Homo sapiens: one gene and its partner. Changing the gene in region 1 together with any one later gene gives a genetic interaction. Each region holds a gene or a part of one and is shown on either strand. Other genes may lie near its edges.

Region 1 (7,826 bases):
GAGATCCTCTAATTTTGAGTCATCCTGGCATTCATGAAACAAAAACCCTTTTGTGTTTATCAATTATTATTTTAATATGCTGCTGGATTTTGTTTGCTTATTTGTGCATCTCCATTTGTTTATTTAATTCATCCTTGCATCTCCATTCATAAGAGATATGAATGTGTATATGTGAGGTATTTCTGTTATGTTTTCATAACAGTGTTATGTTTGTTCCATCAAGTTTGTGTGAGAGCTGTTCTCGTTTCTCTGCTGGGGCAGTGTTTACACAGAGAATTGGAAGGCGCTGTCCTTCAAGCCGCCGCAACACCCCTGGACATCTGGGCCAGATGCCTTTGTGTGGAGGGGAAAGGGGAGTAGGACCTTTCTTTCACAACATTCTCTAGTTTTTCTGTTTCTGTTTTCTTGTTTTTTGCAATCCATTTTGGTAAATCCTATTTTTGTAGCAAATTATCCATTTCATCCATAGAATTCACCAAGCCCTTACCAATTTAGTGTTTTCTTGGTATTTTACCCATGCTGCAATTTCAGTTTTGATTTCCTTTTCTGACCTCATAATTGGTTAACAATGAGGTTTTTTCGACTGGGCACGGTGGCTCCCGCCTGTAATCCCAGCACTTTGGGAGGCCGAGGCGGGTGGATCACTTGAGGTCAGAGACCAGTCTGGCCAACATGGTGAAACCCTCTCTACTAAAAGTACAAAAATTAGCCAGGCATGGTGGCACGTGCCTGTAATCCCAGCTACTCGGGGCTGAGGCAGGAGAATCGCTTGAACCCAGGAGGTGGAGGTTGCAGTGAGCTGAGATCGCGCCACTGCACTGCAGCCTGGGCGACGGAGGGAGACCCTGTCTCAAAAAAAAAAAAAGAATGAGGTTTTTTTCTTTGTGATCTACCATATGGAAAGGTTTGTATATATTTTATGGCATTGTTTGGGAAAAATGCAAACTGTGTGCTTCCTATGCTCTCACATCACCACAATCATGACCACAGAAGAGTTCTGTGACCAAATGTGTTGGGTTTCTTCCCCACACACCAAGCAGCAGACACCCGCTGGGTGTCCTCTGATTTAATTCCAACACTATTTACCCAGAGATAGCATCAGATTCCATGAGTTGAGGGCTGAGTCCCCAAGCCTGCCTCCCTTCAGGCACTAGTTCAGTCCCAAATCTGCCTCCCCACTTTCAGGCACTAGCTGCAGGTCAGGGCCTCAGGCCTCCAGAATTTCTGACCAACTGGCTCCAGGTAGGGGTTTCCATAACTCCCTCTTTGGGCTCAGTTTGCTGGAGTGGCTCACAGAGCTCAGGATAACACATTTACCAGTTTATTACAAAGGATGTTACAAAGGGTACAGATGAGCAGGTGCATAGGGCGAGGTGTAGGAGAAGGAGCATGGAGTTTCCATGCCCTCCCCGGGCGTGCCACCCTCCAGGAGCCTCCAGAGCTGAGATCGCGCCACTGCACTCCAGCCTGGGTGACAGAGTGAGACTCTTTCTCAAACAAAACAAAACCAAAATATCTCCTGTTACAGATACACATTTCTGTCTTATCCTCTTCGCCTTTCTTTATGAACATTGTTGGTATGTTCAATGGAATTAGGGAAATTAGTTGGGAAATGTTGGCAGTTGTTGGACAAGAGATGATAGTGGCTTACAAAGAAAATGTTGCAGGTAGACCTTCCATGACTTGGTAATGGATTGATTACTAGGTATATTAATCCAGGTTCATACTGCTGTAAAGAACTGCCCGAGACTAGGTAACTTATAAAGGAAAGAGGTTTAATTGACTCACAGTTCACAGCATGGCTGGGGAGGCCTCAGGAAACTTACAATCATGGCAGAAGGTGAAAGAGAAGCAAGGCATCTTCTTCACAAGGCAGCAGGAAGGAGAAGTGTTAAGCGAAGCAGGGAGAGCCCCTTATAAAACCATCAGACCTCGTCGGGTGCGGTGGCTCATGCCTGTAATCCCAGCACTTTGGGAGGCCAAGGTGGGCGGATCATGAGGTCAGGAGATCAAGACCATCCTGGCTAACATGGTGAAACTCCATCTCTACTAAAAATACAAAAAATTAGCTGGGTGTGGTGGCAGGCACCTGTAGTCCCAGCTACTTGGGAGGCTGAGGCAGGAGAATGGTGTGAACCTGGGAATTGGAGTTTGCAGTGAGCAGAGGTCGTGCCACTGCACTCCAGTCTGGGCGACAGAGCGAGACTCAGTCTCAAAAAAAAAAAAAAAGAATAGGTGGAATTGAATTGAGGCCGTCAGTGAACAGTCAGGAACATTGGAAGGCTCATCCATGTGGATGTGCACAAGGAGGTGACAGGAGGAGGAGAAGAGGCAGTGATGGGGAACTGAGAGGAGTGTCAGAGGACAGTAGAGACAGCAAAGAGGAGGGTTGTGGCTTGATGGCATGGTCTTCCTAGAAGCCGGGGTTTTGAAGAGAGGAGATCTAGGCATGATTTAGAAGCATGAAGGGACCAGGCTCCCAGGCACCTGGTGTGTGAAAGGAAAAACAGCCTCCCTAGGCAGGATTCTATCAGGACCAAAGGGAAAGGGCCCTTCAGAGAAGACAGCCCATGTTCCGGAAAGCATGTGAAAGGCTTTGGGAGGTCTGGAAAGGAGATGAGGGTCAACAAGAATGTATTGCCTCATCCAGGCAGTGCGCTGGACACGCAGATGCGCTTGGGAGCCAGCGGTCCCTGCCTTGGCTGCTTGTGGTCTGATGGAGCAGTTGAGGCACAGTGGTGGCAGCTGGCTAAGCACCTGCGGCCTGCTTCGGATCTGGACTAATTCTGAGGGCCGGCTCTCCTGGGCACCAGGGTTAGGGGGTTACGGGGAGTATGTGAGTAACGCCTGCTTTGGGAACATAAACCCCCTCCCCCGCCCCCATGTGCGCTGTGACCCACGCCCTCGCAGTCCTTTCTCTGGAATCATCCATGCGCCCCTGGAGCAAGCTGGGGCGTCTGTGAAGGGGTGGGTGAGAAGGAGCTGAGGTTGCGCCCGCCCTGCAGTCACCTGCTCTCCCCTTTTCCCCGCCCCTGCCCTCCTAGACACCATCCGGAAGATGAAGAACGATTTCCGGAAGATGGAGGATGAGATGGACCGGCTGGCCACCAACATGGCAGTGATCACCGACTTCAGCGCTCGCATCAGCGCCACGCTGCAGGACCGCCACGAGCGCATCACCAAGCTGGCAGGTGGGCGCTGCCGGGCAGGGCCTGCAGTGGGCCTTTCCTGGGGCTCTGGGGCTAACGTCACCCTCCGTCCCCCAGGGGTCCACGCGCTGCTGCGGAAGCTGCAGTTCCTCTTTGAGCTGCCCTCGCGCCTCACCAAGTGCGTGGAACTGGGCGCCTATGGGCAGGCGGTGCGCTACCAGGGCCGCGCGCAGGCCGTGCTGCAGCAGTACCAACACCTGCCCTCGTTCCGCGCCATCCAGGACGACTGCCAGGTCATCACGGCCCGCCTGGCCCAGCAGCTGCGGCAGCGCTTTAGGTGTGGCCCCTCTGCCCTGACCCCAGCGCTCCCGCCAGCCCCGAGCCCCATCTGTGCCCGGCTCCTGGGCCCTCCTGGAGCTGTCCCCCTGCCCTGTGTGTGCTTTGCTTTCCTGCTCCTGCCCCATCCACCGGCAGCCCCGGCCCTGCCCTTCACTACCTCTCCCTCGTGCAGGGAGGGCGGCTCAGGCGCCCCGGAGCAGGCAGAGTGCGTGGAGCTGCTGCTGGCCCTGGGCGAGCCTGCGGAGGAGCTGTGCGAGGAGTTCCTGGCGCACGCCCGCGGCCGGCTGGAGAAGGAGCTGAGAAACCTGGAGGCCGAGCTGGGGCCCTCACCTCCGGCTCCCGACGTGTTAGAGTTCACCGACCATGGAGGCAGTGGCTTCGTGGGCGGCCTCTGCCAGGTGGCGGCGGCCTACCAGGAGCTGTTTGCGGCCCAGGGCCCAGCAGGTGCCGAGAAGCTGGCGGCCTTCGCCCGGCAGCTGGGCAGCCGCTATTTTGCGCTGGTGGAGCGGCGGCTGGCGCAGGAGCAGGGTGGTGGTGACAACTCACTGCTGGTGCGGGCGCTGGACCGCTTCCACCGGCGCTTGCGGGCTCCCGGGGCCCTGCTGGCCGCTGCCGGGCTCGCAGACGCTGCCACGGAGATCGTGGAACGAGTGGCCCGCGAGCGCCTGGGCCACCACCTGCAGGGTCTCCGGGCGGCCTTCCTGGGCTGCCTGACAGACGTCCGCCAGGCGCTGGCAGCACCTCGCGTGGCTGGGAAGGAGGGCCCTGGCCTGGCCGAGTTGCTGGCCAATGTGGCCAGCTCCATCCTGAGCCACATTAAGGCCTCTCTGGCAGCAGTGCACCTTTTCACCGCCAAAGAGGTGTCCTTCTCCAACAAGCCCTACTTCCGGGTACGCCTCCTCTTGGGTGTTCCTTGTTCAACCTGCTGGTTGACCCTCCAAAACCTTTTATGCCAGTGCTTGGGAAACTGGGGAAACCAGGCACTCTGGGTGTGGTTTCAGGTTCTTATGCACGGTCTGGGGGGTGGGGAAGGCTCAGGGCATCTGCAGCTGGGCTGAGAAGCAGGGCATGGTGGGGTCCCCAGTGTTGGCTTTCTCTGCCCCCACTCAGGGAAGCTGCTCCGGGGTACTTAGAATGTAGGATGATGCTGTCCCTTGCAGAGGGGGCTGGGGCACTTAGAGCCCCAGCAGAGGGTCATTAACAGCCTTACCTGGAAGAGGGGACCTGCTGTGGACCTGGGCACCTTCTCTTGCAGGGTGAGTTCTGCAGTCAGGGTGTCCGTGAGGGCCTCATCGTGGGCTTCGTCCACTCTATGTGCCAGACGGCTCAGAGCTTCTGCGACAGCCCTGGGGAGAAGGGGGGTGCCACACCACCTGCCCTGCTCCTGCTGCTCTCCCGCCTCTGCCTGGACTACGAGACGGCCACCATCTCCTACATCCTCACTCTCACTGATGAACAGTTTCTGGTGCAGGTGAAGCACTAGCTCCTAGCCGGGCAGGGAATGGTGTTGCTGGGAATGCAGATGGCTGGACAGTGCCCTCATGGCCAGACCCCAGACCAGCTGCCTGTGTGTACCCCAGCCTCCACCTTGCCCAATCTGTGCCCAGCTCCTGGTTGGCAGTGGCCCCTGAGCTGCCCCCACCATACCCACTCCCTCTGTCCTCTGCCTCCTTGGCTCAGGATCAGTTCCCAGTGACGCCCGTGAGCACGCTGTGTGCAGAGGCCAGGGAAACGGCGCGGCGGCTGCTGACCCACTACGTGAAGGTGCAGGGCCTGGTCATATCACAGATGCTGCGCAAGAGCGTGGAGACTCGCGACTGGCTCAGCACTCTGGAGCCCCGGAATGTGCGGGCCGTCATGAAGCGGGTGGTGGAGGATACCACCGCCATCGACGTGCAGGTGCTGCCCAGGCTGGCCGGGGTAGCCCTGACGCAGGCTGGGGGTACTGTCCCTTCAAGAGGGGCTGGGGCAGCAGAGGATCACTGGCAGTCCCTGCCTGGAGGAGGGGACATGTGTATCTGGGCTTCTCACGGGGCCAGTTCTGTAGCCAGGGCGTCCGTGAGGGAACCCCAGGGGAACAAGTCTCCAAGGATGAAGACCAAACGGGCTGGGGAGTGCCTATGTCCACGGTCTTGTTCCTTCTCAGCCCAGGATTATGACATCTTCGCCCCTATTTTACCTGTGGAGAAGCAGAGGCTCAGGGTTACCCAGGAAGTCAGGGCAGGGTTGGTGCTGGTGCTGAAGATTAGACCTCAGACCAACTCTTGTATCCTGCCTTTGCCCCACTCCACTGGTTCTATAAATAGCGACCATGTACCTACTAAATAGCGGGCCCCGCGGTGATTACCCTGTGATCCTTGTGATGCTTGAGTAGCTGACTTAGGGCATCCTCAGCACCGATGGGCTGGTGGTTTCCCCTGACTCGGGCCTCCTTGCAGTACCTCTTTTTACCACCAGGTGGGGCTCCTGTACGAAGAGGGTGTTCGCAAGGCCCAGAGCAGCGACTCCAGCAAGAGGACTTTCTCCGTGTACAGCAGCTCTCGGCAGCAGGGCCGCTACGCCCCCAGCTATACCCCCAGGTCTGGCTGGTCAGGGGAGCCCCAGGGGGAAGGGACAAAAGAGGGCGAGGGTGCAGGGCGGGCTCTGATTCCTTGTCTTCCCCAATCCAGTGCCCCGATGGACACCAACCTCTTGAGCAATATCCAGAAGCTATTCTCTGAACGTATTGATGTGTTCAGCCCTGTGGAGTTCAACAAGGTCCGACTTCCAACGTGACTCAGACTTCCAGGGATCCCGGGGAGGGTTGGCTGGAGCAGCCCCACACCTGCCCAAGGAGCCCCAGGACTCTGTGACCAACTGGGGGTGACCCTGACCCTCCAGTCTCTGTCTCTAGGGCTGTTTTTAGGTAGTACAGAGTGCCCTGCCTCCAAATCCCACAGCCCTTGTCCCAGTCTTGGTGTATGCCCAGCCTGAGTCTGGGTGCTGACCTGGGATTACTGTTTGCCCTTGTCCTTATCCCCACAGTAGTCTTGGGTCCTCCCCAGGGTTTTCTGTTCACCCATGGTCCCTGCCCCGCCTCACTCCAAGCTCAGGGATGCCTCTGATTGCTGGGCCCTACCTGTCCCCTGCCCTCCAGATGACGGCGCTAATATTGTATCCCTCCCTTCTTATCTGGCCCCGGAGACTTTCTGCCTCATCCCAGCTACTTCCATCGTATGTCTCCCGGGCCCCTGCTTGGAACTTGGGTGTCCCCCACACACACCTGCAGTCCCCAAGCTGCATCCCTGTGTCCCTGCCTGCAGGTGTCGGTGCTGACCGGCATCATCAAGATCAGCCTGAAGACGCTGCTGGAGTGTGTGCGGCTGCGCACCTTTGGGCGCTTCGGGCTGCAGCAGGTGCAAGTGGACTGCCACTTTCTGCAGCTCTACCTGTGGCGTTTTGTGGCCGACGAAGAACTCGTGCACTTGCTGCTGGACGAAGTGGTGGCCTCTGCTGCCCTGCGCTGCCCAGACCCTGTGCCCATGGAGCCCAGTGTGGTTGAGGTCATCTGCGAGCGCGGCTAGGCGCAGCCGCTGCCATGCACCGGTCTGTCCCTGCACCCCATGGCACCCAGGATCTGGTCTCGGTGGTCCTTCCCCGCAGGCAGGTGTCAGGACCGGCCTAATAAACATGTGTGGCCTCCTCCTCTCGCTTGCTGGGCGGGCCTTTCCGGGGGCGGGGTTTTGAAGCTGAGGCTTCTGAGGCGCCCGCGTCGGGTCCGCCCCCGAGCGCCGATTGGCTGGTGTGCTGGGCCCAGCATGGGCAGGGGGCGGTTCCACTTAAAAACCCTGGGACGAGAGCGGTCCTTGTCTGCGTTCCGTGTCCAGGCAGGTGCAGGCGCCGCGGGGCCGGATCCTCCGCGCGGCCGAGTCCATCTCCTGGGAAATGGGGCGGACAGTGTTTCCTTGACTGACTATTGTGAGCGCCCTCTCTCTCCGGCGGAGCGGAGACCATGGCCCCCACTCAGGGCCCCCGGGCCCCGCTGGAATTCGGAGGGCCCCTGGGTAATGGGGCAGAGAGATGGGACCTGGGGCAAAGGCTAAGCGAAGGAGAGCTGGAGCGGGTGAACTAAGAGCGGGGGCGAGATCTGAGGATGGAAGGCTTTGGGGGTGTCGGAGGCAGAGGGACCCGGGGGTTTGCAGCGAAGGGTGTCTGGAGAGGGAGAGCTGAGGAGGGGCCGGTTCTGGGGGCTGCAGAACGGGGATTTATGGTGTCGACTGGGAGCAGGAGGAGGGTCTTCGAGGGGCCTGGGGGCGGGGGACTAAGATGGACGCCTGGGAAGGGAACTGGGAGGCAGCG
Region 2 (8,525 bases), on another chromosome or scaffold:
ATATTGCATGAGGTCAGACCAGCTTCCTCTAATCACTCTTCCCATGACTTGATCTCTTTGGATTATCTCCTCAAAGTTTTTTGGTTCCTGTATTTAAAATTAAAAGTCAGCTGGGGTCGAGAGTAGGGGCTCACACCTGTAATCCCAGCACTTTGGGAAGCCAAGGCAGGCAGATCACCTGAAGGTCAGGAGTTCGAGACCAGCCTGGCCAACATGGCGAAACCCTGTCTCTCCTAAAAATACAAAAATTAGCCAGGTATCATGGTGGGTGCCTATAATCCCAGCTACTTCAGAGGCTGAGGCAGGAGAATCACTTGAACCTGGGAGGCGGAAGTTGCAGTGAGCTGAATCATGCCACTGAACTCCAGCCTGGTTAACAGAGCATGACTCCGTCTCAAAAAAAAAAAAAAAAGTCAGGTGTGGTGGCTCACACCTGTAAACCCAACACTTCGGGAGGCCAAGGTGGGCAGATCACTTGAGCCCAGGAGTTTGAGACCAGCCTGGGCAACATGGCAAAACCCTGTCTCTACAAAAAATGCAAAAATTAGCCAGTCATGGTGTGTGCCTGTAGTCCCAGCGACTCAGGAGCTGAGGTGGGAGGATCACCCGAGCCCAGGAAATCAAGGCTGCAGTGAGCCGTTGATCGCCACTGCACTCCAGCCTGGGTAGCAGAGCGAGACCCTGTCTCAACAATAACAATGACAAAAATTCTTCACTTACCCTGTAATCATCAAGAGGATGGTTAGAAGCTTCTGCTTCCCACCTGTTTTTCTCATGTTTTCCACTATTGTTGACTGAGTACATTTGCCTGGATGCTGAAAATTGTTAGGCAGCTGAATTCTTTGGCATAGTTTTTATCTGTAGCCTGCACCGGGCTCCAGGCAACTTCATACTGTAGGGCAGGGCTCAGCATATATGGTGGCCTTTTCTTGTGATCACAGCCACAACCATTTGTTTACATATTGTTTTTCGTTGCTTTCTCACTACAACAGCAGAGTTGGTTAGACAGGATGACTTGCAAACCTAAAATAATACTCTCCGGCCCTTTAGGAAAATGGTTTTTGGTCTCTGATCTGGAAAAAGGAACCTATGTGAGGGAGCCAGAATTCGAACAAAAAAAAAGGAGGTGGGGTGTCAAATTTATCTAAATTGTTTTTGCCTGTGCCCGCCTAGTTGTTTACTGGCTCATTGAGTATGGGACAAAAGTATTTTTGGTTGGCTCATATTGTGAACTTGGGAAGAAGATAGTCCTGTGAATATTGGCAACCCATAGTGCTTAAAATTTAGGCAATGGGATTGTAAATGACAGTATTTTTTGTTTTAATTTATAAATGCAGTTTAAAATTGTTCATCAGCTAATAAAGTACTGATGGGAGCTGTGACATTCTCATTTGGTTCCATGGTAGTATTTAACATTTAGGATTTCATTTAAGCTTTAAGGTGAAACTTCTGAGTACTGAAAATGTAAATATATTTTAAGTAACATAACACATTTTTAGCAGTTATATAAACTTCCTAGGGTCATCAGCAGAGGACTGTTGTGAAATACTAGCTTTTAGACTTTGTACCTGTTTTACAGGCGATATGAAAGGTGAGGTCTATCCATTTGGCATCGTTGGGATGGCCAACAAAGGGGATTGCCTGCAGAAAGGGGAGAGCGTCAAGTTCCAATTGTGTGTCCTGGGCCAAAATGCACAAACTATGGCTTACAACATCACACCCCTGCGCAGGGCCACAGTGGAATGTGTGAAAGATCAGGTAAGTGCCAGCATCTCTGTATCTGAATTTGATCCTTCTATGAGTTGGTAACCAAAACCTTCAAATATTTTCAGCCAAGGGGAAATCATCAACATTCATTCGTTTTTTTATTTCTACTTCACCTTTTTTCAGTCATTTGAGGTAGCTTAATAAAAACAGAAAACTACACAAAAAGTGACTATATTAGCAATGAGAAAGTAAGATTGGTATTAGTAACTAATATTATGCAATGGGGAAAATAAGTTAGGGGTGAGATTTCCAGAATAGAAGGACTATATGGTTTTGTACACTTTTGCTTAGAGCTTCTTTTGCATATCACACAAACACAGAAACCACGTTCAAAAGTACTTAAAAAATAAGCTTAGGGCAAACAAACTTAGTCTTACTCCTGAGATCTCAGGGAAATCTGAGTCCTCAGAATGTTTTTCATCAGTACAGAGAATAATAACATTTTGTATGGCTGCTACTATAACCCAGCTTAATTCTAGAGGGGATCCAAACAATATATATGTTGAAGTAACAGCTTCCTGATGAGTTTGCTTAATTCAAAAAGCTTAGTTCATAATATACGAAGGAACAAGGCAAGTTTTATTTGTTTGGTTCAAGTTTGTGATATAGTGAATGGCACTTTCAGAGATACATTTCTTCCCTGACAGGTTTTGCCACAGGCAGCTGGACTGGAGTATCAACATTAATACCATGTTTTATACATCCTTTTAGATAGGGGCAGGCATTGTGCTTCATTCAGAGTGAGGTGTGGCATGCCCTCTCTTTTTTACCTACTTTTTTTTTTCAGTTTGGCTTCATTAACTATGAAGTAGGAGATAGCAAGAAGCTCTTTTTCCATGTGAAAGAAGTTCAGGATGGCATTGAGCTACAGGCAGGAGATGAGGTGGAGTTCTCAGTGATTCTTAATCAGCGCACTGGCAAGTGCAGCGCCTGTAATGTTTGGCGAGTCTGGTGAGTTTTGTTGTTGTGGTTTGATTAGTAACTACCCTGGAGTGTCTCAACTTTATAGTCTCTGTTTTGTCACATCACTTTTCTGTGCCTTGTCTTCTGCCACTTATTATTTCTTGATACTTCCTACTTCTAGTTGAATACAAAAAGATTGTTTAGTACATGTTTTTTAAAATTTTTGCCAAATTCTTCTTCTTCCATTAAGTCATTTCTAGGTTATATGCTACTTAAAATTCTAATAGTTTAGCCATGCTGATTCATAATGCCGCTTTGCTTCCCCAGAGACAGTCTCACAGTCTGATTCGGTTACCCAGGCGCTATCACGACTCACTGCAGACTCAACCCCCTGGGCCTAAGCAATTCTCCCACGTCAGCTTCCCCAGTAGCTGGGACTACAAGCATGCGCCACCACATGCAGCCAATTTTATTTTTTGTAGAGACATGGTCCCACTGTTTTGCCCAGGCTGATCTCGAACTTCTGGGCTCAAGTGTTCCTCCTGCCCTGTCCTCTCAAAGCGCTGGGATTACAGGTGTTAGCTACCACATCTGCTACCTTGTTTTTTTATGCATCTGTGGAACTGGTCACTCTTGATTGCATTCAAGTCTAGGGTCTGCAAATGATTCCTTCCATTCCTATTAAGTTGGGACCTTGAGTTGGGGATAATAATACATAAACAAACTTGTCTGTCCTGTCTTTCTAGCTAGGTATATGAGGCAAGAGTCCCATCATAAAAAGTGAGTCATTTGGGCAGTTAGGTGGAAAACACACTCCTTTGCAAGTGCTTGCTGTCTGCCCACCAAGTGTGGTTTCTTCTCATCTTTTGACTTAATTACAGTGAGGGCCCCAAGGCTGTTGCAGCTCCTCGACCTGATCGGTTGGTCAATCGCTTGAAGAATATCACTCTGGATGATGCCAGTGCTCCTCGCCTAATGGTTCTTCGTCAGCCAAGGGGACCAGATAACTCAATGGTATGAGGGCATACAAGGCTTGGGGGAGGCCAACTGATAGACCAACATAAAATATGTGGTCCTATTTAAACAATAGGTCAGGAAACTTAATGAAGCAGGGAGACTTCCATATTGCTTATAACTAGTTAGGACTTTCTACACATTGGTTCAGCCCCCTAACCTAATGGTTGCTTACAGTAAGAAGCACATTTCTTTTCTTGATGCTTTGAAGACAGTTTAGGTAATGAATGGGTCAGGAGTGCTTACTGTGGATTTTCTCCTCTAGGAAAGAATTAGTACTGCATAAGATGATTAAAAATAATGCTTTTGTAGTTTCATTTCGGAATAGTGAATGTACTATGATTGTTGTGCGCTCAAATCATTAACTGCAGGGTTTTTTTTTTCTCCCCCCCACAGGGGTTTGGTGCAGAAAGAAAGATCCGTCAAGCTGGTGTCATTGACTAACCACATCCACAAAGCACACCATTAATCCACTATGATCAAGTTGGGGGGAATCTGGTGAAGGGTTCTGAATATCTCCCTCTTCATCCCTCCCGAAATCTGGAATACTTATTCTATTGAGCTATTACACCAGTTTTAACACCTTCCTCGTGTTATGTTTAAAAAAATAAATAAATTTAAGAAAACCATTTTAAATAATGCACAGTTGCAGCCTGGAAAAACTTAAGGTGGCGCCTTATAGTATCAATTTTAGGAGCTTTATTTGGTGCATTTAACGCAACTGGTAATTGCAGAATCCACTTTGCCTGTGTAAGTGAAAAATATAGACTGTTATCTTGTTGGCCCTATGAAATTCTGCACTTTTCATTATATACTCTACCTTCATTAATTACTTCTGGCAAGATGTTCTGCCTTAGCACTCAGTTGCATTCTTTTCCTTTTTCTTCCTGTTCATTATGCTTTAATTCTGAGGACCATATGAGGGTAGAATATATTATCTTTTAAAAATTACAAAAATTTGTATAGGCAAACCATTTCTTAAAGTTGATGGCCAAATTTTAAAATGTTATTTTTCATATCATTTATAATCTTGTCACAATCCACTTAAAGAAGTTTGGTTATATTTCAGTGAAAATTTTCTTCCAGAGTAGGTTTTTTTTCGTGGGTTGGGGGGTAACTTTACTACAATTAGTAAGTATGGTGCAGAATTTCATGCAAATGAGGAGTGCCAGCAGTGTGATAATTTAAACATATTTAAACAAAAACAAAAAAAATGAATGCACAAACTTGCTGCTGCTTAGATCACTGCAGCTTCTAGGACCCGGTTTCTTTTACTGATTTAAAAACAAAACAAAAAAAAATAAAAAAGTTGTGCCTGAAATGAATCTTGTTTTTTTTTATAAGTAGCCGCCTGGTTACTGTGTCCTGTAAAATACAGACACTTGACCCTTGGTGTAGCTTCTGTTCAACTTTATATCACGGGAATGGATGGGTCTGATTTCTTGGCCCTCTTCTTGAATTGGCCATATACAGGGTCCCTGGCCAGTGGACTGAAGGCTTTGTCTAAGATGACAAGGGTCAGCTCAGGGGATGTGGGGGAGGGCGGTTTTATCTTCCCCCTTGTCGTTTGAGGTTTTGATCTCTGGGTAAAGAGGCCGTTTATCTTTGTAAACACGAAACATTTTTGCTTTCTCCAGTTTTCTGTTAATGGCGAAAGAATGGAAGCGAATAAAGTTTTACTGATTTTTGAGACACTAGCACCTAGCGCTTTCATTATTGAAACGTCCCGTGTGGGAGGGGCGGGTCTGGGTGCGGCCTGCCGCATGACTCGTGGTTCGGAGGCCCACGTGGCCGGGGCGGGGACTCAGGCGCCTGGGGCGCCGACTGATTACGTAGCGGGCGGGGCCGGAAGTGCCGCTCCTTGGTGGGGGCTGTTCATGGCGGTTCCGGGGTCTCCAACATTTTTCCCGGCTGTGGTCCTAAATCTGTCCAAAGCAGAGGCAGTGGAGCTTGAGGTAAGTTTATCTCATGCATAGTGTTCGGCTTTGGGCTGTGGAATGTTCAGGCGTTTCACTGATGCCAGAAATGGAGCAGAATCTATCAGCTGGAGACAAAGGCCTTGGGCGGGGGTCCTTCCATTTGGTGCCTACGTGGGGAGATCTTTGGAGACAGAAGGGAGAATGGGAAGGAGTTGCGGCCTGGAGGCTTCCTGCTAGAGCTGAGAAGCCTTCGGGGAGTAATAGGAAGGGGGATTTCCATTGCTTAGGCTGAGGGCGGGGCCCAAGGACTGTTGAAAAATAGCTAAGGATGGGGGTTGCTAGAAAACTACTCCAGAAGTGTGAGGCCGATATTAATCCGGTGTTTTTGCGTTCTCTAGTCACTTTAAGAACCAAATGGAAGGTCACACTAGGGTTTTCATTTCCATTGATTATAGAAAGCTTTAAAGTACTGTAGATGTGGCTCGCCAATTAACCCTGATTACTGGTTTCCAACAGGTTCTTGCTGGTGTGAAATGACTGAGTACAAACTGGTGGTGGTTGGAGCAGGTGGTGTTGGGAAAAGCGCACTGACAATCCAGCTAATCCAGAACCACTTTGTAGATGAATATGATCCCACCATAGAGGTGAGGCCCAGTGGTAGCCCGCTGACCTGATCCTGTCTCTCACTTGTCGGATCATCTTTACCCATATTCTGTATTAAAGGAATAAGAGGAGAGAAAGTAAAAAGTTATTTTGGGTATACATTCAGTTATGCAATAAGCTTAACGTGTTTATAGAGAACAGTTCATTTTTATTAGCTGCTGAAGTTTCTAAAACCTGTCCAGTTTTTAACAGTTCTGTAAACTATTGCAAACTCAGTGTTGAGTTCATTCATGAGTTTCTTCATATATAACAGCTCTATTACATGAGAAACACAGGCCATAGTAGCGAGACTGTCTGATTGTATGGGAGATAATAGGATGGAGATAAAGGATTCAGAGATGAGTGTTCTTCAATATTTATTTATTAGCTAGTTGAAGCAGCTGAGACCAGATGATTGGAGTAGCAAGAACTTGAGATTTTTAGTCTTTATGCCTAGGATTTTGGTCCCTGTTTGCAGTTTATTTAGTTGTGTGATATTGAGCAACTGAATCTCTCCCAACCTCATTTTCCTCATGTTTTAAATTACCATAAACTTGTCCTGCCTACCACACAGGGATGTTATGGAAAGTTAAATAATATATTTAAGTTATTTATGAATGGTAAAGCACTATGTAATAGTACTTAGGGATTCTATTGTTATTATGAGAGTTCATGGTACAGATTGTCTTCAGTAAGTGGCACCTAAGGCTCTTTAAATAAAGGGTTTTGCCGGACACGGTGGCTCACGCCTGTAATCCCAGCACTTTGGGAGGCTGAGGCAGGCGGATCACAAGGTCAGGAGTTCAAGACCAGCCTGATCAACATGGTGAAACCCCGTCTCTACTAAAAATACAAAAATTAGCTGGGTGTGGTGGCAGGCACCTGTAATCCCAGCTACTCAGGAGGCTGAGGCAGGAGAATCGCTTGAACCAGAGGCAGAGGGTGCAGTGAGCCGAGATCACACCACAGACCTCCAGCCTGGGCAACAGAGCGAGACTTCGTCTCAAAAAATAAATAAATAGATAAATAAATAAAGGGTTTTGTAATTTTGTTCAGTTTAGAAATGCCTAACTTTAGAGATTATTTTAATCAACACCTGGCCTCCCTACCATCTGGCTACTCGTGTTTAATTGATGAAAACTAACTCTAATGTAGCCACTATAAAAAATTGGTTGCTAACCCTTGGCAAAATCTTTATTTTGAGCTTAACAGCTTTAATATTTTACATGAAATGTTTAATATTTTAATTAAATATTTTTAAATGTTTGATTTATTGAGCAATTTACATAAGTAAAATACATAAATTTTATGTCTACAGCCCAGTGCTTTTTGCGTTTCTATATAGTCATGTAGCTACCACCCAGATAACAGTATAGAGCACTTCCAGTACTCCAGAGAGTTCTCCAAGTGTGATGACATTAAAATACAAGTAAAAGTCCTGTTGCCATAAAACCAAAATGAAAGTATTTTTTATATGATCTATGCATGTTTGTCTTCCTGAGAAATTAAACATAACTATACCTTGTTTGGAACCTTTAAGAATTTGATTCAGGAATATTTCCCAAAGGTACATCTGTCATGATAAAAAAAAAACCTTCTCTGAAACAAAGGTATTTGTATATTTAGTCATAAACACAAATGATGTATATAGGGCCAGGTTATAATTGGTGGAGGTATGTTTAGATTTCTTTAAGTAAAATAAACAGCACAAATAAAACAGTCCAGTTCATAGCTTAGTGAAATACACTGGGTACTTAATCTGTAGCCTCCTGGCTGCAGTAGAGTTGTCATTTGAGTTACTGTGTTTTCTTAATCTTTTCCAGGAACACAGTGACCATATTTCTTTTCTGCAGGCATATAGAATTTGGTGGGTTTTCTTTTATGTAGGGTGATATTGGATACTTTTTGTTTGTGATTATATATTAGCAATTTGAGGGACAAACCAGATAGGCAGAAATGGGCTTGAATAGTTAGATGCTTATTTAACCTTGGCAATAGCATTGCATTCCCTGTGGTTTTTAATAAAAATTGAACTTCCCTCCCTCCCTGCCCCCTTACCCTCCACACCCCCAGGATTCTTACAGAAAACAAGTGGTTATAGATGGTGAAACCTGTTTGTTGGACATACTGGATACAGCTGGACAAGAAGAGTACAGTGCCATGAGAGACCAATACATGAGGACAGGCGAAGGCTTCCTCTGTGTATTTGCCATCAATAATAGCAAGTCATTTGCGGATATTAACCTCTACAGGTACTAGGAGCATTATTTTCTCTGAAAG

What was found.
Region 2: changes in VPS51 (region 1) and NRAS together harm fitness more than expected from each alone (negative genetic interaction), as found in Homo sapiens cells (one study listed by BioGRID).

What each region holds. Positions count from the first base shown.
Region 1 is NC_000011.10:65,104,537-65,112,362, forward strand, and holds the end of VPS51 (vacuolar protein sorting-associated protein 51 homolog), read left to right. Parts: intron 1-3,044; coding exon 3,045-3,191; intron 3,192-3,266; coding exon 3,267-3,486; exon of another isoform or gene 3,487-3,488; intron 3,489-3,660; coding exon 3,661-4,378; intron 4,379-4,743; coding exon 4,744-4,959; intron 4,960-5,168; coding exon 5,169-5,387; intron 5,388-5,945; coding exon 5,946-6,067; intron 6,068-6,157; coding exon 6,158-6,245; intron 6,246-6,790; coding exon 6,791-7,051; 3' UTR 7,052-7,326; downstream 7,327-7,826. Other genes in the region: delta(14)-sterol reductase TM7SF2, read left to right, coding at 7,480-7,531. UniProt on the Homo sapiens protein: Acts as a component of the GARP complex that is involved in retrograde transport from early and late endosomes to the trans-Golgi network (TGN).
Region 2 is NC_000001.11:114,713,772-114,722,296, reverse strand, and holds the start of NRAS (GTPase NRas), read left to right. Parts: upstream 1-5,525; 5' UTR 5,526-5,639; intron 5,640-6,119; 5' UTR 6,120-6,136; coding exon 6,137-6,247; intron 6,248-8,318; coding exon 8,319-8,497; intron 8,498-8,525. Other genes in the region: CSDE1 (cold shock domain-containing protein E1), read left to right, coding at 1,580-1,758, 2,555-2,718, 3,552-3,684, 4,081-4,128. UniProt on the Homo sapiens protein: Ras proteins bind GDP/GTP and possess intrinsic GTPase activity.